Linked DNA regions of Homo sapiens: regions 2, 3 and 4 are each linked to region 1. Evidence: fine-mapped expression QTL. A gene starts in region 1. Each other region holds a variant in brackets. All regions are shown on one strand. Distances are from middle to middle. Region 1 holds the start of PARVG (parvin gamma). Region 2 overlaps PARVG (parvin gamma). Region 3 overlaps PARVB (parvin beta). Region 4 overlaps PARVB (parvin beta).

Evidence for each region.
Region 2: its variant is fine-mapped to the expression of PARVG in whole blood (INTERVAL, PIP above 0.99).
Region 3: its variant is fine-mapped to the expression of PARVG in whole blood (TOPMed, PIP above 0.99).
Region 4: its variant is fine-mapped to the expression of PARVG in CD4 T cells (CEDAR, PIP 0.95).

Annotation. Positions count from the first base shown.
Region 1 is chr22:44,177,124-44,185,224 of GRCh38, reverse strand. It overlaps PARVG (parvin gamma), which reads right to left and starts at 4,300. Exons shown (of 14, transcript NM_022141.7): 1 at 4,040-4,300; 2 at 3,308-3,483; 3 at 1,817-1,907. The coding sequence starts at 1,895. RefSeq lists enhancers at 2,720-2,809, 2,123-2,852, 2,853-3,582, 3,583-4,313 and silencers at 3,690-3,819, 4,990-5,039.
Region 2 is chr22:44,199,054-44,207,154 of GRCh38, reverse strand. It overlaps PARVG (parvin gamma), which reads right to left. Exons shown (of 14, transcript NM_022141.7): 13 at 1,326-1,398; 14 at 1-838. The coding sequence ends at 729. Among named protein-coding and RNA genes, the nearest start is that of PARVG, 22 kb to the right of the region's middle. RefSeq lists enhancers at 2,016-2,516, 2,517-3,017, 4,278-5,087, 5,899-6,708. The variant C/T (reference allele first, on the strand shown) is at 3,382.
Region 3 is chr22:44,094,661-44,102,761 of GRCh38, reverse strand. PARVB (parvin beta) reads right to left here. Exons shown (of 13, transcript NM_013327.5): 3 at 2,639-2,709. Among named protein-coding and RNA genes, the nearest start is that of TRU-TCA2-1, 52 kb to the left of the region's middle. The variant C/T (reference allele first, on the strand shown) is at 4,223.
Region 4 is chr22:44,142,246-44,150,346 of GRCh38, reverse strand. It overlaps PARVB (parvin beta), which reads right to left. Exons shown (of 13, transcript NM_013327.5): 9 at 2,425-2,486. Among named protein-coding and RNA genes, the nearest start is that of TRU-TCA2-1, 4.4 kb to the left of the region's middle. RefSeq lists enhancers at 1,759-2,388, 3,647-4,276, 4,277-4,906. The variant T/C (reference allele first, on the strand shown) is at 3,988.

The sequences.
Region 1 (8,101 bases):
TGCCTAAATTCACAAAATGCATCATCTCTCATGTGACCCCAATAAAGGCTTTTCCTAGGTATTCTGAAAACCTTCAAGTACTACCCAGACCCATGTCTTCTGATGAAAGGGAAGGCAACAGCGTCATGGGCTGTTGTGCCCAGCACAGGGCAGGCTCTCAGCAAACACTTGGGCGGGTGAGCAGGCGAATGAATGAATGAAGAAAGGAAGGAATGAAGGAATGAGTGAATGGATATGGTGCTGCTCCTTCCTGGAGCAGACTTCTTGCCGCTTGAATCATCCAATGTCCCAGCTCTGCTTGCCAGAACTTTTAGTAATTTAAATCAGTTGTAAAACAAAAAATTAATGGGTTTTTTTGTTTGTTTTGTTTGGTAGTAACTAAGTCCTACTATTCTAACTCAGCAACTTTCCTCAGGACACTTTCTAATCTTCAATGTTTTAAACACAGAATACCAGATGGTGACAAAGACAGCCAGGTGACTCTGGACCAAGCTTGTCCCTTCTGGGGTCTCATCTGCCGTGCCAGGGACCCTGTTGGCACTGGAGTTCTCGCTCCATAACACCTACTTAAAAGGCGGCATTCAGGGCTGGGTGCAGTGGCTCACGCCTGTAATCCCAGCACTTTTGGGAGGCCGAGGCGGGTGGATCACTTGAGGTCAGGAGTTTGAGGCCGAGCTGGCCAACATGGTGAAACCCCGTCACTACTAAAAATACAAAAATTAGCCAGGTGTGGTGGCAGGTGCCTATAAGCCCAGCTACTTGGGAGGCTGAGGCAGGAGAATCTCTTAAACCTGGGAGGCAGAGGCTGCAGTGAGCCGAGATCCTGGCACTGCACTCCAGCCTGGGTGACACAGTGAGATTTTTGTCTCAAGAAAAAAATAAATAAATAAACATTAAAAGGCGGTATTCACAGGAGCTGGAGAAAGCCGCATTCTGCTCCCTTCCCTTAAATTATTTCACACATTTTCTTTGTCAGCACATTTATGTTTTTGTGGTTACATAAATTCCAATGAGTTCACCTAAAGCCCTTCCCCACTGGGACATCTCGCTGCTTCCTTGCAAGCTGTTGTTCATTTGTTTCTTTCAGAGAACACAGAGAGGGTGACAGCTCTGGGTACCTGCCCATGTCCTTCTTTTGAGCCATCTCCTAGAAGGGAGGTTGCAGGAACTGTGGCCGCCAACCCCCCAAAGGGCTCATGACACAGAGCTTTACTGAAAGGGCGACCTATAGTCGTTGAATTGCTCCATCCTATGCTCACCCCACTTTTGAAAGGGACCCACACGTGTGAGGGGAGCACGTCAGGAGCCCCACACCCTGCAAAGTATCACTCCATGGTGGGCATCGCTGCGTGGTCCGTGTGGAACCTCAGTTCTGGGACCACCCTCCTTGGGCTCAGAACCCAGGTCCACCACTTGCTAAGAGTTTCCTGTTACTGTGGCACGTCACCCCTTGTGCCTCAGTTTCCTCATCTGTATAAAGCAGGCACTGATGCCCGCCCTTGAGAATAAATGAGTTGCTATTGGTAAGAGGTGCTGGTGCAGTAGGGGCACTCAGAAGGCTCACAGGATGAGAGCAATCAGTATTCACCATCGTAATCCACACCGTCTCTCATCTGGAGAGAAGAGGTTCTAGCTCTGTAGAAGGTCCCAGGAGGAGGAGTTAGGTCAAGCATAAAGCAGAAGGTGGAGGCAGGGGTGAGCAGAATTGGGCGCTCAGCTGACAGCTGGGAAGGTGCTGCAAGTCCCAGGCATGGCCAGGCTCACTCTTGCCACACAGACCTTCACCCTCCACCCTCAGACCTGCGTGGGCACACACCTTTTGAGAGCTCCTCCTCCGCTGGGGGCTCCACCCCCTTGGGGAGCTGCAGCAGGTCGTACAAGAACTCCGGCTCCATCGCCTCCCAAGCCTGCACAGAGGAGGCAGGAGAGGGCGTCACGGTCTGAGAAGCCCCAAACTCACTGAGCCCCTCATTTTCTCTAGACCTGGAGGCACAGAAGGAGGGTAGAAGCCAGGTTCTGGGGACACGTCAGCATGCCAGCCTAGGCAGGGGGTACGGGCCCTGTGAGAAAGAGCCCTTGAGCCAACCCTTGCGGGGTGACGGGTTAGAAAAAGGCACAGAAGCTGAGGGCGGGCACAGCCAAGCAAAGGCTTGGCGGAGGAAGTGGTCCTTCCTCAGGCAGGTGCAGAGCGGCCGCCCACCGTGCTCCTGCAGCCCCCAGCCCCCTACCCAGGGACCCCCCACCCTATCCCAGACAGGACAAAGTAGGTACAGCTCACTCCTCAGAGCTTGTCAGGTTGAGCTCAAGGGAAACCTCCCCGGTCGGCCTGTGTGGGGCTGGCTGAGGTGGATACGTGGAATGGTGACATCTCCCATCCCATAAACCGGAAGGGCCAGGGTTGACAGAGGCACTGTTCATCTTCCTCCTCCTCATTACAGGCAGAAGGCTGGGCTCACCACATGCCCGGGACAGGGGCAGACCCAGAGGCCAGCCCAGCCCTCCTTCCTGTTCCCCTGGCCCACTTCCTCTCCTGTGAAGGCTTCGCTGGCTCGGCTGGCGCCTTCTGGCCTCCCTCTTCCTCCCTTTTCAGCCCCTGGGTCTTCTCAGTGTTTTCAAACTCAATCAGACATTGAGGTAGGGGAGTCACATGGCAGAAGTTGGTGGCCAGAGCAGGGAGCCCCCTGAGCTGTGGGAGACGGAGGCATTCACTCGACTGGAGCCACCCATGTCACACCAGCAGCCAGCCTGGGGCGGGGGATGCCAGACTCCATCCTGCCCTGTAGCATGGAGGTGGTGGGGACACAACTGACTCCCAGCCCCTTAATATCCAAGCTGAGGGCCATGGCCAGAGAAAACGAAAGAGCCTGGCCTGGGCGTCAGGAAGCCTGGGTCCCAGGCCAGCTCCTCCTCACTCAGGCTGTGTGACGTTGGGCAAACCCCCTGCCCTCTCTGGTCCTGATGCATGGTTACAAGGAGGGCCTGGACTCGATGCTGCCCAAAGGGATCAGCAGCCTGGGCAAGCCCCTTCCTGGCCCCAGGGCCTCAGTTTCTTCACCTGGAGACGGAGGGGTTGGCTGAAGTTCAGAGGCGGCAACTCCTCAGTAGAACAGGGAGGGAGGACGCCGAGCAGCCTCTGAGCAGGGGCAGCCGGAGGGGCCGTGGGGACTCAAGGTCCCACTTTACCGACTCCCTTCCCCGGGTGGCCTGGGCTGGGACTGCACTCTGGGATCCTTCCCAGGTGGTGTCTGGGCCCCTCCCTCCGTGACCCCCAACACTCAAGTATGGTGGCCCCGATGCCAGAACTCACCCAACCGCTTTCCACGCAGGAAAACAAAGGCCTACTGAGTGCAAAGGGTGGTCCCTGGATTCCGAATGGAAGCAAGTTCCGGGTTCTTCTGGGGTCTTCGGGGACCAGGCCGGGAGGCAGGAGCCCCGCTGCTCACTTCCTCCAGGCCCGCTCAGCCGGCAGGAGCTTCCTCCTCTCTGCGGCAGGGCCCGAGGGGGGTGGATGCCGTGAAAGTGAAGCTGCCACAAACCTCCAGAAAGCTCTGCCCGGAGCCCCAGCGCCCGCCGTGCCGCCTGGGCCCCCGGGGTTCTGCAGGCCACTTAAACTCAATGCTTTCATTTCTCCCCCTCTCCCCGCCTTCCCCAAACCATGCCAGTTTCCCCGCAGGCTGTTCACCTCCAAAATGGCAGCTACATAGGCCAGAGCCTGGGGTCGACCCCCGCAACCCACCACCAGCACCCTGTCAGCCTGGCCTCCACCCTCCATCCCGCACCGCCGTCCTCCCACCTCCACACCCCGCCCCGGGCCAGGCCCCTTCCTCTCCCGGGACCACGCAGGAGACTCCTACCTGGACTCTCGGCTGCAGACTTCCCCACGCCCCCTGCCCGCCCCTGAGCTGAGGCTCCCACAAGCCCTCGGAGGAGTGAGTCACTTCCTGACCCCACTCACTCAAACCCACCAACGGCACCCAATAGCTCTTAAAATAAAATCCAGGCTGTGCGTGGTCTGTCTCTCTCAATCGCGGTTACATACCCGTGTCTAGAACAATGCTTGGCACAAAGTGGGCTCAGTGAATAAATATTGGTGGTGGTTGTTGCCAAGGGGATCGGGAAGGCTTTCCAGAGGAGAATGGGGCCTTGACGGCTGCATAGGAGTTTGCAGTGGAAGAAGAAGGGGTGAGAACGTGGCAGGTGGAGAAAACAGCGTATGCAAAGGCATAGCAGGGTTCGAGAAGGAGAGATCTCAGCACAGTAGATAGAGAAACACTTCAGACCCGAGCTGGTCTCTCAAGCTGGAATCTTCACCATCCGGGCTGAAATGGTGAGTTTCCCTAGCAACAGGTGACTGGGAAGCTATCTACCCTTTCTGACAGGTTAGGCAGAAAGTGGCTAAATCAGGTGGGATGCAGGTGTAAGGAGTGTGTGAGAGCAGGAAAGTAGGGTCGTTTACAAGAAGTTAATAAAAAATGACAAAACTTAGTACTGGTATTGTTGCTAATATTTATGGAGTCATTGGTGATGAAACAAACATAATTTTAAGGGCTTTCATTTTACTGGAAACTTCCTTGTGAGGTAGGTACAATCATCACCCCCATATTACAGAGGAAGACACTGAGGCACATGAGTCAGTCCCTGCCATTCTGAAGTGCCCGTGCTAGACTGGGGCTTGTAACAGGTGGGGAGAGAAGCCACCGTGCAGGACCTATTTTGCTGGGGCGTGTGTAGCAGGCTCAGCCCAGCTCTGGACACAGTGGTTCTGGTGGTGGCTTCTGACTCTGGATCACAGCCACATAGATGTAGCAGCAGTCACAGTCCCAGCAGCAAAGAGACGGTATATTCCCATGTGCTAACTGAAGACTGTTTAATAAAGGGACAGCTGGGGCAGGGTTAAAGGAACCCAGAAGAGACAGTGCTACACCCCAGGCTAGCAACATGGGGAGCTGTTACTTCTTCAAAACCTAGAGGGTGAAGGAGGGAGTGGGTGGCAGAGCCCAGGAACAGAATCACTGAAGCTCTAAGAGGGGCCTCGGGATAGGAGCTGTGGCCTTTGGTAGAGGGACACAGCCAGCTCATGGTGAACCAGCAGAAGGGCACAGCTGGAGGAATCAATGACCAAGCCTCACTCTCCTCCCTCCTGCCAGGGCCTCCCCTGCCCACATCCAGCCAGAAGCCAGAGAAAAGAAGTCCCCTGCTGCGGCCCATAGATGTGAGGAGAGAAAATGGTGGGGAGTGGATCTGCAGAGGTGAACCTAAAGCATTCAACCCAGAAAGCATGCTTCTAGGGCCAGCCTGACTCGGCAGCTTCCTTCAGGAGCCAGCTCTGCAGTATTCTTCCAAGAGTCCTTGCTGGAGGCGCTGCCTCCAGCCTTCCAACAGCTTGAGAATCACACAGCTTCCTATGTTAGATTCCTTTCTCCTCCAAACAACTGAAGAGACTCTAATCATCGGCAACTGAATCCCAATTAACTTCGGATTTGTTACCAGAAACAATTGCAGGCAACACGACCTCCAGGATGGGAACTGGGATTGGTTACTTGTTCTGGTTGATTTAAAGGCAGTGGGGACCTAGTAACTGTTAGAGAATGGAGTTCTAATAGATCGTAGCCTGTGATGGCAAAATAATTACCTGTCATCACTCAGAACGAAGTACCTATTAAATTGTGGCTTTGGCAGAGTTGTGGCTTCCATACGCAATACGAGCACAGGTTATCTAAGGACTGTGGGGTGAGCTTGTTATCATCACACCAAAGAGTTTAAAGCAAGAAAAGGACAGTCCCAGGGCTTTACATTCTCAGCTCAAGGTATGTGCAGAATACAGGGAGTTCTCTGATAGCCCTCAAAGCTATCTCTCATCTCTTGGGGCTGCAGGGCTGATGTAAGAATCAGATGCGAAATCTAATCCTGTATGGTGTGGAGTTACAACAGACTAAATCCACAACTCACAAAGCCTCTTGTGTGTAGAGCATTGTTTAGGGGAAGAGAGGGACTCTAAGAATTGGAAGAGTAACATGGAGATAAGTCCAAGCACCCCCAAACCCCAATTAAGAGAAAGGCATGGATAGAAGGGAATTATTCCAGCCTTTTTTTTTTTCAGAGACACGGTGTGAAATATACCTGTGCAAATATGCCAAACACTACTGAACTGTATACTTAAAAATAGTTAAGACAGTACATTTTATGTTACGTGTATTTTTAACCACAACTAAAATTTTTAAAAATTAATAAAAAATAAATAAATTGCAGGGATCACATCACTTTAGGGATATCTCTAAATACTTCAGAATGTTTCTCCTAAAAACATTCTCCTGCATAACACAGTACCATTATGATACCTAAGAAAATTAGCATTGATAGAAGGTTTTCTAATATCTCATCCACATTCAAACTTCACCAAGGCTTCAAAAAATGTCTATTACAGCTGTATTTTTTTTAATCCAAGATCCATTCAGGCATCACACAGCACATGTGATTGCATTTGGTTTTCATGTCTCTTTAGAGCCCTGTAATCTAGAACAATCTTTCACGACACTAACATTTTTTAAACATCCAGGTCAGTTGTCCTGTAGAATCTATCACTTCTGTCATTTCCTGGTCTGCTTCTGTGGACTGATTTTTCTCCCGATTGTGGGTCACAGTTTCCTGCTTCTTTATAATAATGTTTTATTGAATGCTAGACATTAAATTTTTATGTCGTCGCGTGCTGAATTTTGTTGCATTTCTTTAAGAAGTGTTGGAATTTTTCTGGCAGAAATATTCTTTTGATGTCTGTTTTTAATAAGCGTAATCTCTGCAAGCTCTGATCTTTGTCTCCTTAAATCAGTGAGACCTGGCTCTGTCTGGGTCCCCCTCACTACAGCACAGTCCAGGAATTATGTCCAGGCAGAAAGCCAAGACCAGGGTAGGGCTCACCTCACTTGCCACCCTTTTCTTGGGGATCACAGATCTGACTCGCCTCTTAACATTTTACTTTTATATAGTTTCAAACTCACAGAAAAGCTGCAGGAAAGTACAAAGAGTTCCTATGTGTATTAGTCCATTTCCATGCTGCTAAAACAGACATACCCAAGACTGGGTAATTTATAAAGAAAGACAGTTTAATGGACTCACAGTTCCACCATGGCTGGGAAGGCCTCACAGTCATGGTGGAAGGTGAAGGGGGAGCAAAGGCATGTCCAATGTCTGAAGTAACTGTTTCCTGTGTTTTGTGGAGGCTTCTAGTTATTCCTGATGGAAAGGTAACTCCAAAAGTGAAAATTCTTTCCTCATAAATATTGATCGATTACAAAGAAGAGTTACATTTTTTAGTGTACAAATTTGATAAACACTATATTAACTAAGTAATATATATTTTTTAAAAATAGAAACAGTGCACTCTGTCAGACTGGAGTGCAGTGGTGTGATCACGGCTCACTGCGGCTTTGAACTCCTGGGCTTAAGTGATCCTCCTGGGTAACTGGGACCACAGACGTGTGCTCACATGCTAAGTAATCAAAATTAACATCATAAGAAAGTAAAACAATCAACATGACATGTCTCCTGGTAATGATGCGCTGAGAGGAACACATCACTTCTACCGAAAACGCATAACCTGGATCTAATAACGAGGAAAATACTAGATCAATCCAAGCTGCAAGACATTCTGGAACATAACTGGCTTGGATTCTCCAAAGAATCAAGGCTATGAAACATAAGGAAAGACTGAAGGGCCACTCCAGACTACAGGAGGCTGGAGAGATGGGACAACTCATTCAATGCCTTGTCCTGCCTCTTATTTTGGCATAAAGGACATCATTGAGACAATTGGAAAAAAACACAATTAAGGTTTGTAGATTAGACAATGCCATTGTATCAATGTTATTTCCTGATTATGACACATACTGAGATTATGGAAGAGAATGTCTTCACTTTTAGGAAGCTACACTGATGTATTTAGAGGTGAAGAGGATATAATGCATGCAACTTACCCTCAAAGATTCAGAAAATATATATATCACCAGGTAAATGTGTGCGTCTAAAGAAATATATATCATTATTATTATATCGAGAGAGGCAGATAGGCAGGGACAGAAAGAGAGTGAAGAGGATAAAGTAAAAA
Region 2 (8,101 bases), 22 kb before region 1:
CCCACACGACTCTTCTTTATGTGCAGAAAATGCCAAGTCTCACTGGAGCGAGTGGGAACCCACAGCTCCCGAGGACAGACTGGAGATGACCTGAACCCACTAATCAACCACGAAGATTGCTTCTTTGTGACTTTTGGGCAAAACTCACGAGGGCAGCTGCAGGACACAGCCCGGGTTGCTTTGACAGTCACTGAATCCACTTCTCCCGGTGGGTGGGGGCATGGCTATGGAGCCATTCGGGCTCCTGCCCTGGAGGGTGACTCTGGGGCCCATCCTCCCGAGTGAGAAGCAGGTGGGTGTGGGGAGCTGGGCTGGAAAAGGTGGGGTCTGGGGCTGTGGGCCCTGTCCCTGAGAGTCCCCAGCCCTGAGTGATGCCACCTCTCTGGGCGGTCACTAGCCTGGGCCCAGAGATGAGAGACTGATGTGACACACACTCACCCCATGGGAGGGAGGCTGCAGGTTTAAGGGCCCTCCTCAGGACCCTGTCAAGTTCCCAGAATCCCTCCCAGAAATACTTTTATTAAAATAAACTGAGCAAGGCCAGGCGGCTCAAAATGATCCACACAAGGGGGTTCAAAGATAATCCAACGATGGAGACAGGAGACAGGGTGGGAGGGAAGCGGGTCACGAATGCACAGGAAACAGCGGGACTGTGGGAGGACACCCTGCAGCCTCGGGCCCTCCAGCTGGGCTGACAGGCAGGCTCTGGGCTTTGGAGGCAGTGAGGGTCAATTCGGGGCTCCATGGGGCGTCCTGTCCCTGTGTGCCTTCTGCGTGTGCTTGCAGAACAGACCATAGAGCACCCTCAGTGTGCTCTTGGCATCCTTGTTCACGATATCTGCGGGCCAAAGGAGGGCAGGGCAGCCAGTCAGGCCTGGGTGGCAGTGACCGACTGTCCCGATGTGGTCAAGGTTTCCTGGCATTCAGGATTTCAGTGCTAATCCCAGGAGAATCCCTGGAAGCCAGGACAGCTGGTCACTCCAGGCCTGGGTCCCGCGCCTGCTGCGTGACTGCCTCCTCCTCCTGGCCAGTCCTCCTCTGAATGCTCCTGTGGTGCCCCCAACACAGCAACTCCTCAAGGTCTGGCTTCTCTGGACAACCTGTCCCCAGAGACCTTGGTCTCCCCCTCCCCAGAACCTCTTCCCCTGGGGCTGCAGTGCCCCCTCCCAAGAAACCTTGGCAAGCGCCCATTCTCCACCCCTGCCAGGCAAGAGGACTCTGCCAATGCGTGCTCATCCCCCAATGCCCTGCACCCTGTTCTGTGGCTCTCGCACAAGGCTGCCACCCAGGGCTGGCCACCGTGTGGGCATCTGCCTTGCACTCACCTTCAGGGCTGACAGGGCAGCTGAGCAGGCCCTCGTCCTTCAGCAGCTCCAGCGCCAGGGTGACGTTGTGCAGCTATGATGACAAGGCCCTATCAGATGTGGGCACAAGCAGCAGCCCCAGGCCAGGCCTTGGGTCCCAAGTGCCAAGCCCTTCCTGTTGTCTGTGATGTCCATCATGAGCCTAAACTCCCATCCAAGGTGGGCATCCCTGACCACGACCACAATCCGTGGTCATCCAGCATCTCCCTACAGCTCACTCTGTCACACAAGCAATCCATGTCTCATTCCTCAGCCACTCACAGGCCCCACTCTGAGCAGGTGCTATACCACACTGGGCACACGCTTGCGTCCAGGGGCCACTGCCCGTGAAAAAGGCAATCGCCAAGGAGGATACCCAATAGGGATCAGGGAAGGCTTCCTGGTGGAGGTGAAGCCTGGTGGTGAGTCCCGCCAGGCAGGGAGAACTACCCAGGGAAAGGAGCAAGGGCCTGGGGTGGCAGAGCACCTTTGAGAACAGCTGTTTCCCAGGGCAAAGCACAGTGAGGAAATCAAGGCTCAGAGGAGCCAAGGGGCTCACTGGAGCTCACGAGACAGAAAGCGCTCAAACCAGGTCTGTCCGCTCCAATGCTCATGCAAAGCAGGCTAGAGACTGGAGCGGTCCCCACCCAGGTGGCTGTCCTTTCCGCCACCCCTTGCCTGGGGTGCAGTCTCAGAGATGGCTCCCTTTAGGGTGGAGAGCGCCCGGGCATCAGTCAAGTCCCCCAGTGATTCAGAGCTCAGCTTAGTCCCTGCCCAGGGCCTCCCCTTGCTCCCCTGCAAAGTGGGCTCACCACAGTTCCCCTGTGCCTTGCTACAGGATATGGTGAGAGCCCAGGAGCCTGCCGGCCCTCCCACAGTAGGTCCCCTCCCTTTCCATTCTAGCTTCTCCCTTGGGCCTCGTCTACAAGCAGAGTAGGTCCCAGCCCTTTGCCTTAGGGCAGCAGCCTGGTGTGGGTGAAGAGGGATGAACTCCTGGTTCACTGTGACCTCAAACAGGTCCTCCCTTCAATGTCTTAGCCACCCGTAGATCCACTAGACGGGGTGGACATCCCAGCCCGGGGGTCAGCTGTGCTGGTCCCGTTCCCTCCCTATCTGCCTGGCCACACCAGCCCCACCAGGACAGGGCAGTTCCCATGGCAACCCGCCAGGGGCCAAGAGGCCAGGTTGGCCGAGCGGTGGATGAGCAAGGCCAGGCAAGACTCATCCAGAAACGCCAGCCTGGCCCAGGCCACCTCCAGCCACCTGCTGGATGGCCCGAGCAAGAGGACTCTTGGGATCTAGCTTGGATGTCTGTGTACTGCCACCCCCATCCCTGCCACTAAGTGTCTGACCTCGGACAAGTCACACATCCTGGCTGGGCCTCAGGTGCCTCATCTGTGTCACGGGGATGATACACCTGTCTGCCTTCCTCTCCAAGGCTGCCATGTGCGTCCAATGTGATGACGGACACAGAATTGAAGCCACAAAGCAAGATTTGAAGGTGAGGATGATGAAGGCATAGGAGCTGGAAGTGGGTGAGCAGAGTCCTTCTCCACGTGGGGACATGAAGATGGAGGGCGGGTCCCAGATGGAAAGGAGTGTATGGGCAGGGTGCCCAGCAGCAGCAGCAGGGCCGCTCCTCTGTAGTCAGCCAACAAGAAGAAACAGGCTAGGCACGGTGGCTCATTCCTGTAATCCCAGCACTTTGAGAGGCCAAAGTGGGCAGATCACCTGAGGTCAGGAGTTCGAGACCAGCCTGGCCAACATGGTGAAACCCTGTCTCTACTAAAAATACAAAAATTAGCTGGGTGTGGTGGCACGTGCCTGTAATCCCAGCTACTTGGGAGGCTGAGGCAGGAGAATTGCTTGAACCCAGGAGGCGGAGGTTGCAGTGAGCCAAGATTGCACCACTGCACTCCATCCTGGGTGACAAGAGCGAAACAAAGGCTATCACACGGCACCAATGTTGCAGCATGCTGCAGGGGCCAATGCGGGGTGAAACTCTGAGACTGTCCAGACCAAGATGGATGGGAAGCTC[C/T]GAGTGGACAGACCAGAGCATCACCGGAAGTTCCCATCACTGTGTCCCCAGTTCTTCCTCCTAGACTGGAATATTCTGGGAAACTAGGGTTGCAATTGTTGCTATTGTTCGCATTCTCATCACGAATATTATTTGCAGTTACATGGAGAGTAAATGTCGGAGTGAGAACAAGACCCTGAGGAACCTGAGGTTCCAGACTCCGCACTGTGCTCTCCTGCCTCAAAGCTCCGCCTTTGATACATTCAGCGAGCCAGCATCTCCCAAACTGTGATCTAAGATGGACAGGAAAGGGGATATCTGTGGCCAAACGTTTTTAGAAATTGTTGGATTAAATAAAATACTATGGAAGTCCTTCACTGCAGGACTTATTAGAGCCTTGAATGTGTTGGTGGGCCGCATGAACCTTCAAGACTAGACATGTTTCCCCAAGTTATTTATTCATAGAACCCATTTGTCACAGAACACCTCCTGGGACCAATGTTTTGGAAACACTTCGTTCATTCACTTATTTAAAAAAATACTTGTCATCTACTATGTGCTAGCCATACAACCAGTGCTCAAAACAGACCAGACCTCCTGCCCTCATAGAGCTTATGCTTTGGGAATTGCTATCGACACTGAAAATTATGACATCTGCTTCTGTTTGTCACACTCTTCCTCAATGACACTCAATCTGAACAAAAGATCATCCCCCAGTAAGAGCTGACCCTGGCTCCAGAGCTATCTCATGATGCTCTGTCCAGAGATTTTTCTTCCGCGTGTGGCTTGAGATGAAGATAAAACTACCACCTTCCACGGAGCTGAGAGAAGGTTACAACCCGGGAGGATACGTGCAAATCCTCCTGGGGAAAGTAATTTAACGTGGAAGGACGCCAAGGATTCCTGGCTCCGGGGATTTTATTTCTGGGAGCGAATGATCCTCTCTCCCTCCATCCTTAACTTCCGTGCCCACAATGAATAACTATCTCACATAAACACCATCAGCAAAGAGGGTCTGATAATGAGAAATCCAATTTCAAGAGGCTACTCTGCCAAGATAACAATTCCGCAGAGGCCCACCTTCAGCAAGGGCTGGTGTTCCCGCCCTCCTCAGCTGACGACCTCTTCAGCATTTTGATTACACATTCCTGCAGCAGAGATTGCCCACAATATGCTGTAAAAATTCATTCTTGGAGTCTGAGCTAAGAGGCTGCTGCTTTTCCCCCACATCTAATCTGACTCATATTCAGAAGTAAGTTCTAAAATCAGTGGATTCAGCAAAGCGGCTGCACACAGCAACATGGAAGTCTGCACGTTTGTTCCCGTCTTGTAACTGGGGCTTGGATGGTGCAACAGATTGAGCAGAGGCCCTGCAGCCCAGGGGCACCCCAGAGTGGCTCTGAGCTGGGTTCCGAGCCCCAGGCCCTCAGCCCGCAGGTGGTCCTGCCTGCCCCCTTCCTCCGCCTTCTCTCCTCACCGCTCACATTTCAGTGCCTTGCCTTCCCGAGGCAGGCTCTGACCCCAGTCTCAGCCTTGGCTTCAACCCCACTGAGCCCTGCCACCCCTCCATCTCCCAGAGACTCACATTGGCTCCACAGGAGGGAAACAGGGAGGACCCTAACTCACTGTGTGCTCTGGGCCAGACTTCTGTGCCTCTCTCAACTGTTTCCTCTGTGGAAGTGGGGATGGGAAGAGTTCCTAACTCCAAGACCCAACATGAGGATTTGCTAGCACATTCGTCCACACTGCCCGTGGGAGATCCCACCATCGGCCCAATTCTGCACCCACACACTTTGCAGGGCTGTCCCATGTCACTGTCAAGGCCACAGGGCCTGCTTCGATGGAAGTGGCAGCCTGCCCATTCTGAGCCAGGGCCTCATGCCTTCTGCCTGGTCTCTCATGTGTCTGCCATTGCCAGGAGGAAAGCGTGCCCGGGCCAGCTGCTGGTCCCAGAAGGAACATGGCAGGCTGTGGCACAGAGCCGAGCCACCCAGCCACGACAGCCTGATCCCTATCCAGTCCTCGGAGGAGTGACAAAGCCTAGCTGAGCCTCTAGCAGCTAAACTCAGCCGACCTGCCGGTCTGTGGGAAGAAATGAGCATGGTTTTCAGCCCCTAGGTTTTCGGGTGGTTTGTTAAGCAGCACGTTTGTGGCAATGGCTGGCTGATGCAGCTCCTCCGAATGGAAGAACCTAGGAAGCAGCAGGCACCGTGCCTGCCACAACCACCAGGACCGTAGACACTGACTGCCCCGGCCTCGTTGCTCTGACCCAACATCCCAGCTCTTGGGAACCAAGTCCAGAGCACCTGGCCTCCAGGGAAGGTGGAGGCCACACCCACTCAAGATGCATCCCCGTGGGGGCGAGGGACATGGCAGGCTGCGGGCGGCAGGCTGTGCTGGTGTGAGGCTGCCATTGAGCAGCTGGGTGGTACTGGGTAAGCCTCTCGGGCCCTGGGCTCCCCTCTGTAAAATGGAGATGCAGCCCTGCCCCGCTCTCACAGGGGCAAGGAGGGAGGGTGAGTGGGGAGAGGGCCAGGAGAGGCAAAGTGCAGGGAGCTAACCCCAAGGGAGTGTGGACTGTGGTACAGGGCCCCACAGAGCGCCGAGGGACTGCAGAGGAGCTGAGAAGGTGGGCAGAGCTGGCCGCCCGCCCAGGGAAGCAGGTGGGAAGCAAAGCCAGGGTAGGCTGGGCTGAGAGCACAGCCTGCGTGGATGTGAGGGAATGGGGGAGGACCAGGCCCTGGAGAGCTGGAAGGGGGCCAGAGGTCATGTGGCTGTGGCTGTGGCTGTGGCTGGGAGTCGGCAGGAAGGGAGGAGGGGACGTGGTCGGGGAGGCAGATGGGGCTTGGCAGTTGGGTGCTCCACTTGAAGCAGGGGAGAGGCACAAGGGTGGGTGTCCAGGAAGGTTAAGGGGAGCGGCCTAGAAGAAGGGCCTAGGTGGAGGGGGAGTCTGGTAGGGGTCCAGGGGGGACCTCACCTGCTACTGGGCCCCAGATAGGCCAAGAGGCCTGATCCAGGGCCAAGGACGCCCTGAGCATGTGAAAGGGATGGAAGCCTTTGTCTCTCCCAGAAACAGCCCCAGAGGCTGGCCCTGGGACGGGGCATGTGGCCCTGCCTCCTGCTTCACCTCTTTAGAAAAAGCTACTGCTGCAGAGAGATAAAGAGGTCCTCCTGCCCCAGGCCACGGGAACCCTGGCATGGATGGAGATAAGCTGGCTGCCCGGGATCCTGGGCACGCCACCAGCCACCAACACTCCAGCCTGTCCTTTGGGATGCACGCCTCCAATGTCACCTCCTGTGAGAGGCAAGCCTGGGGATACTAGGGACCACATGTCCCTCAATGCTTTCTCCTCGATGGTTCTCCAAACTCTTTCTTACTACCTGTGTGGCCTGAGTAGGGGGCAGGGATTGTCAGCCCATTTTCAGAGACAGAAAACCTGAGGTCCAGGCAGGCAGGGAGCTGGTGGCGAAGAGCACAAGACTCAGGCCTCTTGCCTGGCAGTGACCCGGGGTAAGCCTTGGCTGCCCGTGGACCTCTCTTTCCTTATTTGGAAAGTAGTAAAATCCCTTCTCATGGGCCAGGCCTACCTGGTAGGAAGGGTGCTCCTGGGAAGGGAACAGCTTGTGGCAAAGCCCAGAGATGGGAGAGCCCAGGGAGCTGGAGGAAGTGGTGGCACACACCACAGGGGCCTGGCGGGGGCGGAGGCAGGACTAGCCAGCGGGCACTGAAGGCTGTACCTGGGGAAGAGGCGGTGGGAGCTGCATCTTTGCAGGCTCACCTGCCCTCTCACCCCACCTCCATCACTCTCTTCATCCCTCTTCCCCAGGTCAAGCCACAGCCCTCATGCCTGGAAGCAGGCAGCCAGCTCCCAGCCAGTCCACCAGCCTCTAGGGTCCACGTGGGAACTGCTGATCCCCCCAGGTCAGGCCCCACCCTTCCAGCCCCTCTAGCCAGAGTGAAGCACCTACACCTCCCTGACCCATTCCTGTTCTTGCCACATTCTGAGCCTTTGCTGATGCTATTCCCTCCCCTCTGCAAGCCCTTCCTTGATAACTCTGCAAACCAATCCCTGATCAACTTCCCGGCTCCCCTCTGATGCAATGCCCTTCCTGACTCCTTGAGATTATTCTAAGCCCTCATTCTTCCAGGCCCCTCCTCTGACCCAGGCATCTGAACCAACACGTTTCACTGTGGCCCTGCAAGACCACACGTCACTAGGAGAACAGTGGGCACAGACTGAGAGCTCCCTGAAAGCAAGAGCTATGTTGGATCAACTTAACATCCCATGCAGTTCAGGGCCTGGCACTAAACAGGCCCTCAGGGAATGGGGGAACAGGCGTGTGGGTAGGGGATGGGTGGATGAGCAGGTGGGTGGATGGGCAGGCAAGTGTATGGGTAAATTGGGTGGATCAATAAACAGAACAGGAAGATGGATTGAAGGACAAACAGATGGATGCATGACAGGACAAGCAGGTGAATGGACCGGTAGGCAAGTGGATGGATGAATGAATGGATGGACAGACAGACATATAGATAAACTTCCTATGGGTGGGTAGACAGGCAGGCAGGTAGGTGGGTGGATGGATGGATGGATGGACTGGGTAGATGAATAAACAGACAGGAAGATAGGTGCATGGACAGGCAGGTAGGTGGATGGACAGGTAGGCAGTTAGGTGGATGGACAGGTAGGCAGTTAAATGGATGGGTGCATAGATGGTGGGTGGCTTGGTAGGTGAACAG
Region 3 (8,101 bases), 82 kb after region 1:
CTCAAGCAATCCTCCCACCTCAGCCTCCTGCATAGCTAGGATTACAGGTGCCTCCCACCACACCCAGTTAATTTTTTTTTTTTTGGTAGAGACAGGGTTTCACCATGTTGCCCAGGCTGGTCTTGAACTCCTGGGCTCAAGTGATTCCCCCCAACCTTGGCCTCCCAGGGCGCTGGGATTTCAGGTGTGAGCCATGGCGCCCAGCCCCTTCACCTCTCTCTGAGTCTCCACATGGAAGCAAGAATGACACAGCTCCCCAGGGTGTTGTTTCAAGGAGATAATCCTGTGAATGGAGTTTGTGAACTCTCAAGCATTGCTCAAAAATCAAAGAAAAAAATCTTTAGAAAGGTGCATGGGATGGTTCATCTTCTGTGTCAACTTGCCTGGGCTCTGGGGTGCCCAGATAGCCAATGAAACATTGTTTCTGGGTGTGTCTGGAATGGTGTTCAGAGGAGATGAGCATTTGAATTGGTGGATAGAGTAAAGCAGACAGCCCTCCCCAAAGCGGGTGGGCCTCATCTGATCCCATAGAACAAAAAGGTGGAGGAAGTTGGGATTCACCTCTCTCTGCCGGGGACTGCTAGTGCCAGCACCTGGATCTTCTCCCACCCTGTTCCCGGTACTCAGGGCTGCAGACGCAGGCTGGCATCTCTACCACTGGCCCTCCAGCTTTCTAGCTTGCAGATGGCAGGTCGGGGGACTTCTCAGCCTCCGTAGTCAAGTGAGCCAATATCATAATAAACCTCTCTCTAGATATTGACACAATTGGGTCTGTTTCTTTGTAGAAGCCTGATAATTCTCATGCATCCCTTGCTTAAATATCCCCCAAGAACAACATTTTCGTGGCTAAAAGACAGTGACTTTCCTCATCAACGTTCTTCTGTTTGAAATAACAAAGTGGGTATTCAGAGGGAAAAAATAAAACAAATTAAATAATTTAAGTTATTAATAATCAACATCTTTGGGTGGACCCTAAAACTGACATTTGGAATTTCTTTTTTTTTTTTTTCTGTGAGATGGAGTTTTACTCTTGGTGCCCAGGCTGGAGTGCAGTGGCGAGATCTCGGCTCAACGCAACATCTGCCTCTCAGGTTCAAGCAATTCTGCCTCAGCCTCCCGAGTAGGTAGGATTATAGGCACCCACCACCATGCCCGGCAAATTTTTTGTATTTTTAGTAGAGACAGGGTTTCACCATGTTGACCAGGCTGGTCTCGAACTCCTCACCTCAGGTGATCCACCTGCCTTGGCCTCCCAAAGTACTGGGATTACAGGCATGAGCCACTGCGCCCGGTCTCAATGTAGATTTTATTTTATTTTATTTTATATTTTATTTTTTATTTTTTATTTTTTTTTGAGACGGAGCCTCGCTGTCGCCCAGGTTGGAGTGCAGTGGCGCGATCTCGGCTCACTGCAGGCTCCGCCCCCCGGGGTTCATGCCATTCTCCTGCCTCAGCCTTTTGAGTAGCTGGGACTACAGGTGCCCGCCACCTCGCCCGGCTAATTTTTTGTATTTTTAGTAGAGACGGGGTTTCACCGTGTTAGCCAGGATGGTCTCGATCTCCTGACCTCGTGATCCGCCCGCCTCGGCCTCCCAAAGTGCTGGGATTACAGGCGTGAGCCACCGCGCCCAGCCTCAATGTAGATTTTAAAAGAACATAACTTGCAAGCCGTCTTACTTATTCTGAATGAGCCCTCATGAAAACACAGTTGTACAGCCCAGCATTGGGTCCACTGTGGTGGTGAAGGTGGAGAAGCTTTTTAAAAAGCACTTTTAATAGAAAAATGTCTGTTTCTGGCAGACACTGTCACCATCGGCATTTTCAAGAATCCCGGGGTGCCCAAGCTCGCCGTGGGCTATGGAAGCCAAGTGTCTGCCACAGCCGTGTGCCCAAGAGCCCACCCTGGGTTCACCAAGGTCAGGCAGAGCCCACAGCCTCTCCTCTTCAGGGGATTCTCTCTCAAGCCCTACCGTGGTTTCGATCAGAGCAACCAAAACTGCAATCTGTCCTTGGACCCACACAAGCACTGCCTCACGGTGAGCAGGAGCCACGCTGGAGAAGGACAGCCGCTGCCCAAGAAGGCCAGCACCATGGGCCCCTTCCCTCACTGTTCCCTGACTTCTGGGAGCGGGGCAGCCAGGTTCCTCGCCCAGCTGGGATTCACGCCTCCAGACGTGGTGGAAACTGACTGTCCACTCAGCGCAGGCATCGGCATCAGATGGCTCCTGGCCAGGAGTGGCCAGGGTGACCCCTCCTGCTTTTCAGGGTTAAATCTGAATCTAGACCCCACCAGGCTCCAGACGGAGTTCCAACTCCATCTGTAAGGTACTACACTAGCTCACGCCAGCACTCATTCCTAATCCTAAAATCCCCTCCTGCCGAGCTCTGTCCAGCAAAGAGTTCACAAGACTGGTCGTTAAAGCCCCAGCCGAGCAGGGCACATGGGAGGCGCTTGGCACTTCGGGCTGGATCCTCTCTGCCGTCCTCCTCTGCCAACATGTCTGCCCACCTTCTCATGCAGCACCAACATCCCTTTCAGGAGCCCCGGGTTTAGCTCCCTTTGTCCATGAGAGCCCTGAACCCCAAAGCCAAGTCCTCGCCCTAAGAGGAAGATTCCAACCAAGACGGAGCTCCTTACCTTGACCAGTTCCTTGAACTTGGGGTCTTCCTTGGAAGTGGGGTCAATCATCGTGCGCTCCTCGTTCTCCTCTGCCAGGGACAAAAGGAAGTCACGGTCAGCGATTGTGGGGGTGGCAGGGACACGGGGAACCAGGGGGAGGCCAACTCATCTCTGACAAATGGAGAAGCAGAGAACCCAGCACTAGGGGAGGGTGACTGCAAGGAACCGCCTTCTGGAAGGTGGATGGGGCATCCTCCCGCCTTCCCCTCTTCTGGAAAGGGATGAAGTCAAACTCATCATTCTGCCCGGCCTCGCTCCTCCCAGACTCCGCCAGCAGCTGGTCCAAACCATTTCCATTTTTCAGGAGAAATAAGGAGAGAGCAGCATTCACAGGGCATGAGATGCCTCCGCTGGCCGGAATCTGGTATGTGGGAAAGCTTCAGGCACCAGGTAGTTCCCTGTGGCCACTATTTATAAATACATTTGAAGAGTCTGGATGGTTATAATGAAATGGAAAATGTTTGGTACATTCCATGGAAAAGAATCAATATGCAATGTTGTATGTAAAATAACATGCAGAAAAAATATTGAGAAATAAATAGCAAAAAAAAAGGTGGGGGGGGATGATGTGTAACAGCAAAACGTGTTCAGCCTCACCCTCTTTCTATTTCTCTACCTGTTTGCTTTCCCTCCACGTTTCAGCCTGGATCCCACAGACACCAGGCAGCCAGCTGAGCCCGTCATGGAGGACAGTGCCGTGGAGACAGTGGGGAGGCGGGACTGCGGAGGGGGCACCCACCAAGGCTAGGCGTGCTCCACAGCAGAAATGCCCAGCACCACACAGAAGCCAGCGGGCGCCGAGCACCTCTGAACACACACAGGGAAGGGCAAGGGGGTCTCAGGCTGCCACACTGTCCAGCTCCGGGACCTGCACAGAGCATGGGTCGGGTGGGGCCCAGGCTCCACTCACCGGGAGGCTCTATACCACACCTCTCTCTTAAAGAGGAAAAAAGGCACAAGAGGGGCTCCAGGCAGAAGCCAGTTACCCCCAGGACATACAAGTGGAGATGGCCAGGACACAGTTGAGACCAGGGTCCCAGAGCCCAGACAGGCTCCCATGGGGCTGGGGACACTGACCATGTCGGTCAGAATGAAAACAGCTTTGAAGCTGAGCGTAAGTGGCTCCTGCCTACAATCCCAGCACTTTGGGAGGCTGAGGCGGGAGGATTGCTTGAGCCCAGGAGTTCCAGACCAACCTGGGCTACATAGTGAAATCCCTGTCTCTATTTTTAAAAATAAATAAAATAATAAAATAAAATAAAATACAAAAGAAAGAAAGAAAATGGCTTTGAGTGAAACTTTGCTGCTGACACGGATGTGATGCAACTTCCCGGCAGCAGAGTGTAAACTCTGACAACATGGAGAAACTAATTTTGAAGTCATACAGATCTGATGCCTGAAAAGGACACTCCAGGTAATGTGCAGGGAGTTCTCGGGAGTCCTGATGATATCTCTGCAAAGGCCTCCGCAGCCTCCCACTCCTGCTGGGATCAAGGCCGGCGTCCTCCATGTGGCCTCCAAGGCCCCTCTCCCGCCTCATTT[C/T]CTGCCCTCCTGGTGCAATCTGCTCCAGCCCATCCGGCCTTCCCTCACTCCTTGAAGCCTTGCTGCCACCTGCCCTGAGCCTTGGCACCTGCTCCCGCTGTCTGACACTCTCTCCCTGGCCCATGTTTCCTTCACCCTTCAGACCTCAGCTCCCCAGCTGAGATCCTTGAGCCCGAATGCCAAATCTTCCAAGCTCTCCAGCCCCAAAGAGGACTTTGTGTGCCTGTGTGACCCATGTCTGAGACCCCCTCTGGACCACCCATCTCAGGCGGGCAAGGAGCAGGGCCAGGCCGTGAGTCCACACGTGTATGAGAGGGGGTGCAGGACGGAGAGTGAGCAGGTCACTACCCAATCCCAGCCTTCAGAGAGCCCGTTTCTGGAAACATCCCCTTCAACCCACACTAAAAATCTCAGCATTGCCCTATCTAGCATGTCCCCACACCTTGCTCTCGCTGAACTGAGGAGAAGCAAGATTCGGGCCCGCCCAGCTCATGTGGCCCCCACAGGGAACTCGCTGCTCCCTCCTGAAGGCTCTGAGCCCACGTCTGACCCCAGACTGGGCAGCATGCCATGGTGGCTCGGATGTCCCAGGACTGTGTGCTTCTTGAGGGGTCCTGCCTCAGTCGGCGGGACCACTGAGAGGAATGGGGCGTCTGACCCAGAGACTGTGAAAGGTGGAGGACAGAGATGCCGTTTCGAGGCTTACTGTTACCAAACACTTTCTCAGAGGCATCTCCGGTCTTTACCTGTCCCCGTGGGGTAGCTTTCATTCCTGACCCCGCCTAGAGGGGAACAGTGGGCCTGAGAGGGTGGACAGCAGGCCCCAGGCAGGCAGCTATGTGTGGCAGTGTGTCCATGTCTGCAGATCCCGCCGGGATCTCCTGGTCACCTGGTGATGGTGACAGTAGGCCAGAATCAGAGGCTCTGCACAGACCAGGGAGCAGCTGCGTCTCACGGGGCAGGGGCCTGATTCAGAGCAGGCGCTTGCTCCAGATGAGAAACACCTCTGTATCTGGGGGCTCCAGAGCTCACAGTCAGCCCTTGCTGCCTGTCAGCATTCATGACCTGCTAGCCTTGACCGGGGACCCTGGACATGAAACCCCCGCAGGCCACTGCACATCATGGCCCTCAGTCTGCTACGGGCTGCTCACGCGGCCTAGAGGGGAGCAATTCCCAAACCTCAGTGGGCCCCGGAGTCACTGCAGGCATGTTTAAAGCAGAGGGGCCTGGGCCCGCATACTCCCATTTGGTAGGTCTTCGGGTGGCCAGGAACCCTCACTGCCAAGTGCCCTGGGACTTTCTGACATCCTGCATTGAGGAACAGGACTCCAGGGACTCTGGGAGAGAAGAAAAGGGCTGTGAGAGGCTCCTTGTTTTTCCTAAAAGGAAGCTGAGAGCAGACACCAGCCGCCATGCCATCTCTGAGCTGTGTGACTTTAGTGGTCGCTAAACTGTGCCATGCTCCTCTCGGTGGCTCCAAGACTGAGGCAGGACCCCTCGAGGAGCCCACAGTCCCGGGACACCACAGTGGGTACAGCAAGCGCTGCTCCATCCAGGGGGTGCCGGGGGGTCAGACATGGGCTCAGAATCTTCAGCAGGTCTGGGTCCACACAGGCTAGGTGGGCCTGGTTCAGGTTTCTCTCCACTTCAGTCAGAGGAGAAGCAGTGCCCAGAGGCCAGGGTGGTATCTCTGTGCCAGTGTTTTGTGGGAACCGAGCCCCCGCCCTCCCCACCTTGTGCGTCATAGCCAGCTGCAATAAAACGTGCCCAAGGACAGGGACCTGTCCTACTCACCTCTGATGAGGGCCACCATCTTCACTGAGAGGGTCTAGAGCAGGGGGAGGAGCCTAGCTCTGGGGGCAAAATGCCCGGGGTTCAAGACTTTGGCACTTACTAGTGATCTCTGTGATCTTAGATCTGTGCCTCAGCTTCCCCATCTGTACAATGGGGATAATGATACAACCCACCTCACAGGGTCACTGAAGGGACTGAGGAGTAGAAGCATTCACAGTGGACCCCCAATATTCGCTACAATGATGACATTTATGAGCCCAAAGGATATGAAATATACAAAGAGGACTTCAGAAAGAATCAGGTGCTGTGCAAATATTCAGTGAGTGAGTTCAATTATTATTATTTTTTGAGACAAGGTCTCACTCTGTTACCCAGGCTAGAGTGCAGTGGTGTGATCTTGGCTCACTGTAGCCTCAACTTCTTCAGACTCAGGCAATCCTCCCACCTCAGCCTCCTGAGTAGCTGGGACTATAGGCGTGTGCCACCATGCCTGGCTAATTATTTTATTTTATTATTTTATGAGATGGAGTTTCATTCTTGTTGCCCAGGCTGGAGCGCAGTGGTGCAACCTCGGCTCACTGCAACCTCCGCCTCCTGGATTCAAGCGATTCTCCTGACTTAGCCTCCCAGGTAGCGGGGATTTCAGGTGTTTGCCACCACACTCAGCCAATTTTTGTATTTTTTAGTAGAGACAGGGTTTTGCCATGTTGGCCAGGCTGGTTTCGAACTCCTGACGTCAGGTGATCCACCTGCCACAGCCTCCCAAAGTGCCGAGATTACAGGCCTGAGCCACCGAGCCTGGTGGGGCCACTCTCTTCTAAGCGGAGGGAGAGAAAGCCCCGTGGACCCTGGTGCGACCTCAGGCAGCATCACCAGCTCTGGCTTCGGGTCGGTTGGCGGCTGAACTTGCATCGGCGTTTCTTCTCCATAAGCTCTTGCTGGCCTGGCCTCGTCACGGAAACCACAAAAAAGGGATGAACCGGGACTTCCCTTCGAACCAGGGTTTGGAAATACGCAGAATGTTCCATAAATGCCTTCCAGATCAGCTAGATCCCAAAACACACTTTAAGGAAAATGTGTCTTGGCTGTTACCCATTACATCAGGCAGTGAGCGCAGGGGCCTGGGCCACTTGGCAGAGCCCACCCTGCAAGCCCAGGCCGCGGGCAGCTCTGGCTGGCCCAAAGGGAAGAAGCATATTAATTGTGTTTTGCATTTTCTTTTTTTCTTTTTTTTTTTTTTACTTTGAGATGTCTCGCTCTGTCACCCAGGTTGGAGTGCAGTGGTGCGATCTCGGCTCACTGCAACATCCCAATCCCGGGTTCAAGCGATTCTCCTGCCTCAGCCTCCAGAGTAGCTGGAATTACAGGCTAGCCACACTCGGCTAATTTTTGTATTCTTAGGAGAGACGCGGTTTCGCCATGTTGGCCAGGCTGATCTCAAACTCCTGAACTCAAGTGATCCGTCCACTTTGGCCTTCCAAAGTGCTGGGATTACAGGTGTGAGCCACCGTGCCCGCCCTGTTTTCTGTATTTTCTGGTGCTTGGCATCTCGGGGCCTTGCTGACTCTGGAGAGATTGCACCTCCAGGGCAAGCTAATTCCTAGAGATGGTAAACCACCCTCTGTGAGCACACCTTTCATATGAAAACCACTCAGAGCCTGAGCCGCAGAGCCCAGAGTCCCCAGCCACCTCTTTCCTTGGGCTCTCACGGGGCTCCTACACTCCCAGCCAATATCCTCACCCTAATCTCCCCTGGCCCTGGGGACATGCCACGCCACGCCACACCATACCACGCCACGCCACGTGGTGTGGAAGAAGAAGAGTCTTCTTACTGAGAAGACTCAGGACAGCTCCTGCACCGCAAAGCCCAGTGAAACGATTCCAACAAGCCAGGCCTAGGCCTGTTCACCCAGCCTTGCCCATTCCTTCAGAGAAAGCCACAGTAAGGGTGTTGGGGCCAGGCGCAGTGGCTCATATCTGTAGTCCCTGCACTTTGGGAAACCGAGGCAGGAGAACTGCTTGAGCCCAGGAGTTGGAGACCAGTCTGAGCAACATGGCAAGACCCCATCTCTACAAATAAATTAA
Region 4 (8,101 bases), 35 kb after region 1:
TCTCTCTGAGCCCTATTATGTAAGTACCAAGGGGCACTGGCTTCTCTCCGGCACAAGCTTAAAACCTGTCACCTGTAATTCCTCAGTGACCAAAGCCAACTTTGATAGAAACTCAATATCATCCACCACTGCCCATGACATGATTTCTTTGTTTTGTTTTGTTTTGTTTTGTTTTGTTTCGTTTTGTTTTGAGATGGAGTCTCGCTCTGTTGCCCAGGCTGGAGTGCAGTGGCGCAATCTCGGCTCACTGCAAGCTCCACCTCCCGGGTTCACGCCATTCTCCTGCCTCAGCCTCCCGAGTAGCTGGGACTAAGGGTGCCCACCACCATGCCCACCTAATTTTTTTGTATTTTTTAGTAGAGACGGGTTTTTGCCATGTTAGCCAGGATGGTCTCGATCTCCTGACCTTGTGATCCACCCACCTCGGCCTTCCAAAGTGCTAGGATTACAGGCGTGAGCCACCGCGCCCAGCCTGCCCATGATATGATTTCTTACCCATTCTGCTCAAATTTACTGAGCAGCTACTATGTGCCAGGCATGCTGCTTGGTGCTAAGGACACAAACACAGAGAGCTCCACCCCTGGCCCCCGCCAAAGGGCCTGTGATGTAATTCTCCATATGCGTGTAGTGGTGGGACGGAGAAGTCAAGAGATAGGGCACTACAGGGAAACACGCAATGCAAGGGAGATTTCATGAGCCATTAATGGGTGTGCGGACCCCCGTTAAGACCATGGAGAGGGAGCATTGGAGCTGGGCCTGAGGGTGGGCCAGTGCAAGGTGAGAGTGAGCCGAGTGGGCACCCAGACACATCTGCAAACCCTTTGGGGTCTTCAGGCTGTGGCTGGATGTGGGTGGGATGGGAAGGAGTAGGAGGGGACGACCCAGGGAGAAACCTGCAGAGGTGGGCAGGGGCCCCTGACTTCATTCTGGGGCACAGAGAGCTACAGACACCTAAACTTGCAATGTGGAGGTGAGGAAGGGACAGGCTGGAGTGGGAAGCTACCAGGCAAATCAAAGGATTCTGTCTTCTTCCTTGCTGGTGGCTCCAGTGCCGAAAATGTGTCTTTCGCAGAATGAATTAACATGGTATCTACCGAGAGATGAAAGCAATCTCAGGCCACACCATTCTCAATGCTACCAGTGACTATACGCTGCCGGCTAAGCCCATGCACAGAGAGAATCCCAGTTTATCCTCACAGTGCCCTGAGAGGTGGGTAACATCTCTGTCCCCACTTGACAGATGGGGAAACTGAGGCTGGGGGGTATAATCTCGCCCTTCGCCAGAAGTCACACAGCTGATAAGTGGGGAAGCTGGATTTGATTCATTCCCTGAACCGGTTCTGTCAGGGTCCCTGGGGGCCACATGTGACGAGGTGGAGGTGGGGGACTCTGATGCTCCAAGTATATCCCTCACCACCCAAGAGTGCTAGGAAGGCTTTGTCCCAGAAGGACCATTAGCACGGTTCCAACAGCCTTTTGCAAAATGCTTCCAAAAATGAATGATCTCATCGTCCAAACCCAGGCCAACATTTTCCAAAAGTGGGTTCCACTAAAATACAATGCGTCTTACCCCAAAATTGATAGATAAATAAATCCCACTATAAACAAACAAGTTTGAAAAATGCTTCCTACCAAGCTCCCTCTTGGAGAAGTACAGTATAGGTCAGCCTATTAAAGGTTCTGACAAGTCTTGCACTAAGAAAGCTGTTTGGGTAAGCTGTCCTAGACAAAGGAGAACTCTCTTGCCTGCACCATGGGTTGAAATGAGCGCTCCTCCGATGTTATGGGAAGGAGGGATGCAGCAGCCTCCTGAATGGGATGCCTGCAGGCACTCGGATAAGTTAATGAGCAGCCAGTGGGCTCCAGTTCCTTTTGACGGGAACAAGCCTCCCTGGCAGATCCCCCAGAAGCTGATCACACCCAGCCCCCAACTCCAGAGCCTCGGAGATTTTTCCATCCACAGATTGACCAGCAGGCTGCCTGGGCTAGTGAGGGCCCATTCTCTGTCTGGAGGGAAACGGGCCAAATCCATGTATGGCACAGCTCAGCCGCACAGGCCTGCGTGTTTACTGGGCAGGCTGTAGATGGTAAATGAGGCCAGCGAGAGCAGCAGGCTGACATGCTTAAAAACATTTCCACATTGAAAAAAGGTCTCGAGTCAGAAAGAAATGGGGGCTGGGTAATTCACTTAACAGAAGCGGAGCGGGCGGGCAGGAAGACACCCAGGGAGCAGCGAGGTTGAGTTAAAAGGCGCTGATTTTATGCACTGTGGTTAGGTTTTTGACTGTAATTACATTTCAATCCATGTGGCAAACATTTCTGAGATTCCAAACATTTTCCCACCTTCTTCCCAGCGGGGCGTTTGTGCTGTCAAAAAGCCGCGAGCCAGGGGAGAGCACATCCAACATCCCACCAATAGCTCACCTTCTTCACCACGCTGAGCTTATCCGGGGCGTGGTCGAACAGCGTGTCGAAGGCATCCCGCTCTGAGGACATGCAAAGAGAGACACGAAGGAGCGTTTATGGAAACCCGTGGTGCTGCCCTAATCCAGGGCCCTGCCAGCTTCTGATCCCTCAGGAGGTTCAGCCTCAACTCCCACACCTGCCTAGAATCCTTCCAATTCCTACCAGAATGAAAGGGCTGACCCTGATGATCAGTCCCGGCCAAACCAAGGCGAGCAAGAGCGCTTGGGAACAACCAGAACAGCGTGGACTAGAGGCTGCAGAGGGTCCCTTCCACCTGCTTTTTACCTTCTCATATGAAACACATAGATGGCATCTGGCATCTGCACCTGCCACGTCCTAGGACTTGAGGCGTCCTGAATTCTCCCTGTTCCCACACTCCTTGTCTACTGGCAAATGTCACCTGTGAATCCAACCACTTCCCCCGCGACGGTGGCCATGTCCTGCTCACGCCTCACTGCCCCTCGCCTGGGAGCAGCTGCAGCCTCCTACTCCACTCCTGGCCCCTGAGCCCTTCTCCCCAGCAGGCAGAGTGAGCCCTTCCAAGTGCAAACAGGATCATTTGTTTCCCCCCTCCACTCCCACCACAACTAAAACCCTCCAACTGCTTCTTATCATGCTTAGAATAAAATCTATCTTCTCTCCTGCGAGCCATGGGACACTCAGATAAAATCCATCCTCTCTCCCACGTGCCATGGGACACTCAGACTCAGCGTTATCCTCCTACATGCACCCTCCCTGACTTCACTCCACCAACCGGCCTCCCAGCTGCTCCTGCTGACACTGGTGCACACTTGCCTCAGAGCCTTTGCTCCTGCTGCCATGGAGGGGGGAGTTCCATAGGGGCATATGGAACAGAGACTTGGACCCCAAGCAGAGGGCTGAGGTCTCCAGGTAGACACAGAGCTGTGGGGCATCACTGCCAGGGCAGAAAAGACAGGGAGGAGGGCATTTGGAAGGGGCCCAGGGCCCCCCAACTTCCATCCTCCAGGTTCCTGGAGGCAGAGCATGTTCAGAGGACCAAGCCCAGCAGAGAGACCCTCTTTTACCAGCCAGGCTGGGGCCCCAACCCAAGGAGCAGCCCTGGGAGCTGCGGAGCCCAGCTTGACAGGGAGAGAGTGGGGTAGGAAGCTCCTCCCACCCGTCTAGTGGGTGGCCTAGGGGAGCCTCCTCAGGGACCGCCCTGGCCTAGGAGAGAGACAAAGAGAGCCCAGAAAAAGAAAGAAGGGATTAGGCCCAGGTAAGCCAGAGACCTACGGAGAGAAGTTGGCCAAGCCTCCTCCCAGAGGAAGCATGCTGACCCTTCCTCCCAGGCTGGGCCCCAGGAGGCAGCTCACACCCCCCTGCCCAGCCCAGCCCAAGTAGCCCCTTCCGTGGCCTTGTGGAGGTGGTGAGAAACAAAGAGGAAAGGAGAGAAGGAAAGTGTATGTGTACGTGTGTGTGCGCGTGTGAGCATGTGTGTGCATTGTGGGCACGTGTTTGCGTGTGTGAGCATGTGTGCGTGTGCGAGCACGTGTGTGCATG[T/C]GTGTGTGTGAGCACCTGTGTGCACGTGAGCACATGTGTGCGTGTGTGAGCACGTGTGTGCGTGTGAGGTTGTGTGTGAACATGTGTGTGTGCTGTGAGCGTGTGTACGTGTGAGCGCGTGTGTGAGCGTGTGTCCATGTGTGAGCATGTGTGCGTGTGAGCACGGGTGTGCGTGTGTGCGGTGTGAGCGTGTGTACACGTGTGAGCACGTGTGTGCATGTGTGAGCACGTGTGAGCGTGTGTGTGCCTGTGTGAGCGCATGTGTGCGTGTGTGAGCATGTGCGTGACTGGGGGAAGGGAGGGAAGTTTTCTTCACCTAAAGACCAACATTGACCAAAATGCCCTGCCTCTGCACACACGCCAGCTTCCTAATGCGGCAGCTGTAAATGATTTTCATAATCATCTAAGACTACACTCAATAAGACAGTCTGCTAAGGGGCAAAACAAAAAAAAAAAGTGAAATTTTTACATCTTTACAAAGCAATACGCAAACTATAAATGCAGCTTAAGAAAAACCCCAGGAGCAGAAGAGTGCTTGACGTCAGCCAGGGTATATTTAGCTGGGCCACCGCTGGGCTGGCAGAGTCAAGCCACTCAAGGAGACATCGGGGCCGCAGAGGCCTCTCCGCCGGCTGCCATGCCCCTGGACCCAGGGGACTGGCATCACGTCACACAGTCCACAAGGCAGGGAGGGGCCAGGGGCTCTGAAAATGGGCACTGGGGACCAGGCACAGGACCCAAGGGCATTTGGAAGGGACCCAGGGCCCCCAACTTCCATCCTCCAGGTTCCTGGGGGCAGAGCATGCTCAGAAGACTGAGCCCAGTGGAGGGACCCTCTGTTACCAGCCAGGCTGGGGCCCCAATACAAGGAGCAGCCCTGGGAGCCGCAGAGCCCAGGTTGACAGGAAGAGGGTCGGGTAGGAAGCTCCTCCCACCTGTCTTGGGGTAACCCAGGGGCCTCCCCAGGGACCACCCTGACCTAGGGGAGAGAGAGAGACAGAGAGAGCATACTGCACCCCTGTGATGTGCTTGGCCTTGGGAACGAAAATAGATCCTATTTTGTTCTAGCTGCCCCACTTCACACCCCATGACTGGGCAAATCCTTCCCTCTCCGACCCCCTTTCTTCCTCCATAAAGGCAGCATTCTCACAGCCCCTGCCTCGCTCTTGGTGTGGAACTAAGTGGGGCAGTGAGTAGAGGCAGGAGCATGGAGCCTGGCAGGAGCATTGTCGGTCCTCAGTCCTTACAGCTCCCGCTCGTCCTGTCCCCCAGAGCCTCCGCAGGCTCTGGGGACATCACAGAGATAAACAAGGAGGGACTCCTCTCTTGGAAGAGGCACAGACTTGGGGGAGGGCCTGGAGAGGGAGTAAACTATGATAGTGCAACCCTGTTAGTGTCAGAAAAGACGAAGCCAGACGGGGGGCCAACCGACCTGACCATATGCCAGGGCTGCCCAAGCTCAATCTGCAGGAATGCTCAGCTTGGTCGCTGTAATGTTTTGATTTGAGTCAACAGTTTTCATTTGTTTTGTTTTCTTTTGTTTTGTTTTGGTCTTTAGGCTTTTTGAGACAGAGTCTCACTCTGTCACCCAGGCTGGAGTGCAGTGGCATGATCTCAGCTCACTGCAACATCTGCCTCCCGGGTTCAAGCAATTCTGCCTCAACCTCCTGAATAGCTGGGACTACAGGCATGCACCACCACACCTGGCTAATTTTTGTATTTTTAGTAGAGACGGGGTTTCGCCATGTTGGTAAGGCTGGTCTTGAACTCCTGACCTCAAGTAATCCACCCGCCTCAGCCTCCCAAAGTGCTGGGACTACAGGTGTGAGCCACGGTACCCGGCGAGAGCGAACAGTTCTTAAATTGGAAAGTTTGTCCAAAAGTTCTTAACTTCTGGCTTCTCTTGAAGAACTGGAGGCTGTGGCAACAGTGAGCCTGCACTCCCACCTGGCAGCAATAAGCTGCCCCTGGGGATGGGGGTGTGGACTCTCCAGCTTGCGCCAGACCCCACCACTCCCCACTGCCACCCAGCCCTGGGGTGAAGGGGCAGATGACATTATCATTGCATAATCTAGACACTCTCCTCTTTTATATTATCAGCCTGGTCCCTGGAGACACCTGAGTCTGGGACCCATGAACCAAGGGCTGGGGGGACCTGAGGAAGGCTTCACAAAGCAGTCCTGGGGTTCAAGCCAGGCTTGCTGGGGCAAGAGGAGGAGGAAAGGCGCTCCACCGAGGGACCAGCAGGCACAAGGAGAGAGAGATGCCAGAAAGCCCAGCGCAGGTTCAAGAGCCGGGTGGACTGTGAGAGGGGTTAACAGGGGCTGTGGCCTGCAACGTGGGAGTTATGGAGGGCACAGTCAGGAGCCACGGGTGATGGGATGGAGCCAGAGGTTTTGGAACAAGCCCTGTTGGCAGAAATGGGAGAGACGTGAAGGGGAATTACTAGGAGTTACAATGAGGGGGAAGAGAGTGAGGAAGGCACATCCCCCTTCTTTCCCCTCTGCCTCAGAAAGAGCCTCCAGCCCAGGGCAGGCCCAGGAGGGGGAAGGGCCGCCCGCGGAGAAGCCGCACCAGCTCACCCATTGCCATGGAGACCAGGCTGCAACCTCCCTGGAACCCCTGAGACTTGTTTCCGTGGAGAGAAGCCTCCTCACCCACCTCATCCAGGACAGTGATGCTGTCAGGAGGCAGCGAGGACCTGTGGAGCCACCTCCCTCCCCGGAATGATGGGGAGTGGGCAGAATGGAGTCCCCATCCCTCCCTGGCTCAGGGTACTCGTGGGGAAACTGAGGCCCAGAAGACCACTCCTGGCAAAGCCCAGCACATTAGCCAAGGAGGGTCTGCCCGGCCTTCCAGAAGCTCCTAAAACATCTGCCCCCAGCTGCGTGCAGACTGTGGCCAGGGCTGGCTGCTTTGGCAGGGGGTGGGGTGCACCCCGAGGAAAGGTCAGCTCCAGCCCACAGAGCACCTCTGGGTCAAGGAGCCATGTGTGAAAGGAGAAAGGCAGGGGCTGTGGGTGCCCCTGAAAGTTTGCTGGCACCAGTGTCTGCCAGACACGTGCAAGCTTCGTTGTGTAAACACTGGCACAGGGAAGAGGAGCCAGGCCATCCCCATGAGCTGAGTGCTGCTTGGTGTGTCACATGAGTACAGAAAGAACTAAGGCAGGGGTGGGGAGGAGAGCCAGTGGAGGCCAGTTTGGGGCAGTGGAGTCAGAGAGGGCCTCCCTGATCAGTGACATTTGAACCAAGAGCTGGCAGAGCTGAAAGAGTGAGCCATGGGGTAATCTAGAGGGAGAGCATTCAGGTGAAGGTTGCTGGAGGAGGGAGCACCCTGGGGTGCTCTCGGGGGCTGAAGGAGGGGAATGGCATGGCAGGGAAGCGAAGACAAGGCGTGCTGCTGCCCCCACAGGGGCGGGTGCCGGGCCAGACACCCTGCTGTGCCTGAGGGTGCCAGGCTGGGTAACCAGGAGACTTCGGAACCTGCGTCAGCAGAAGCAGCAAGGCCGGGGGTGGAACTAATTGCCTGTCACCGACTAATAGCCTGTTTGCATTTTCTCAAGCACAGCACATAAAGCCTACAAAGTAACGAGAACAATTCCATCGGCCTCTTGTACATGGTCTTGCGATTCCACAGTCCTCCCACCCCTGGAGTGGCAGCTGGGTCCACTTTTCACATGTGACACCTGGCTCTTACCTAGGGAGCCACTGCCCCAGCCATCAGACCCTAAAGCTCATTCATGGGGTGGCAGGGGCTCCGGGGCCAGGCTTCTGGGCCCTCGGGCCACAGGGTGCTATACACAGCCTGAGGCCCATGTGCTCCCAACTGAACTGAACAGACTGTCTTTTCCCTAAACCTCCAACAAGGCCCGAACCAAACACAAAAGTGACAGCGCCACAAAAAAAACAAAAAGACTCAAAAATGCTTGAGGGGCCCACTGTCATCTTTTTTTTTTTTTTTTTTTTTTTTTTTTTTTTTTTTTGAGACAGAGTCTTGCTCTGTCACTCAGGCTGGAGTGCAGTGGCGCAATCTCGGCTCACTGCAACCTCCACCTCCTGGGTTCAAGCGATTCTCCTGCATCAGCCTCCCGAGTAGCTGGGACTACAGGTGCCCG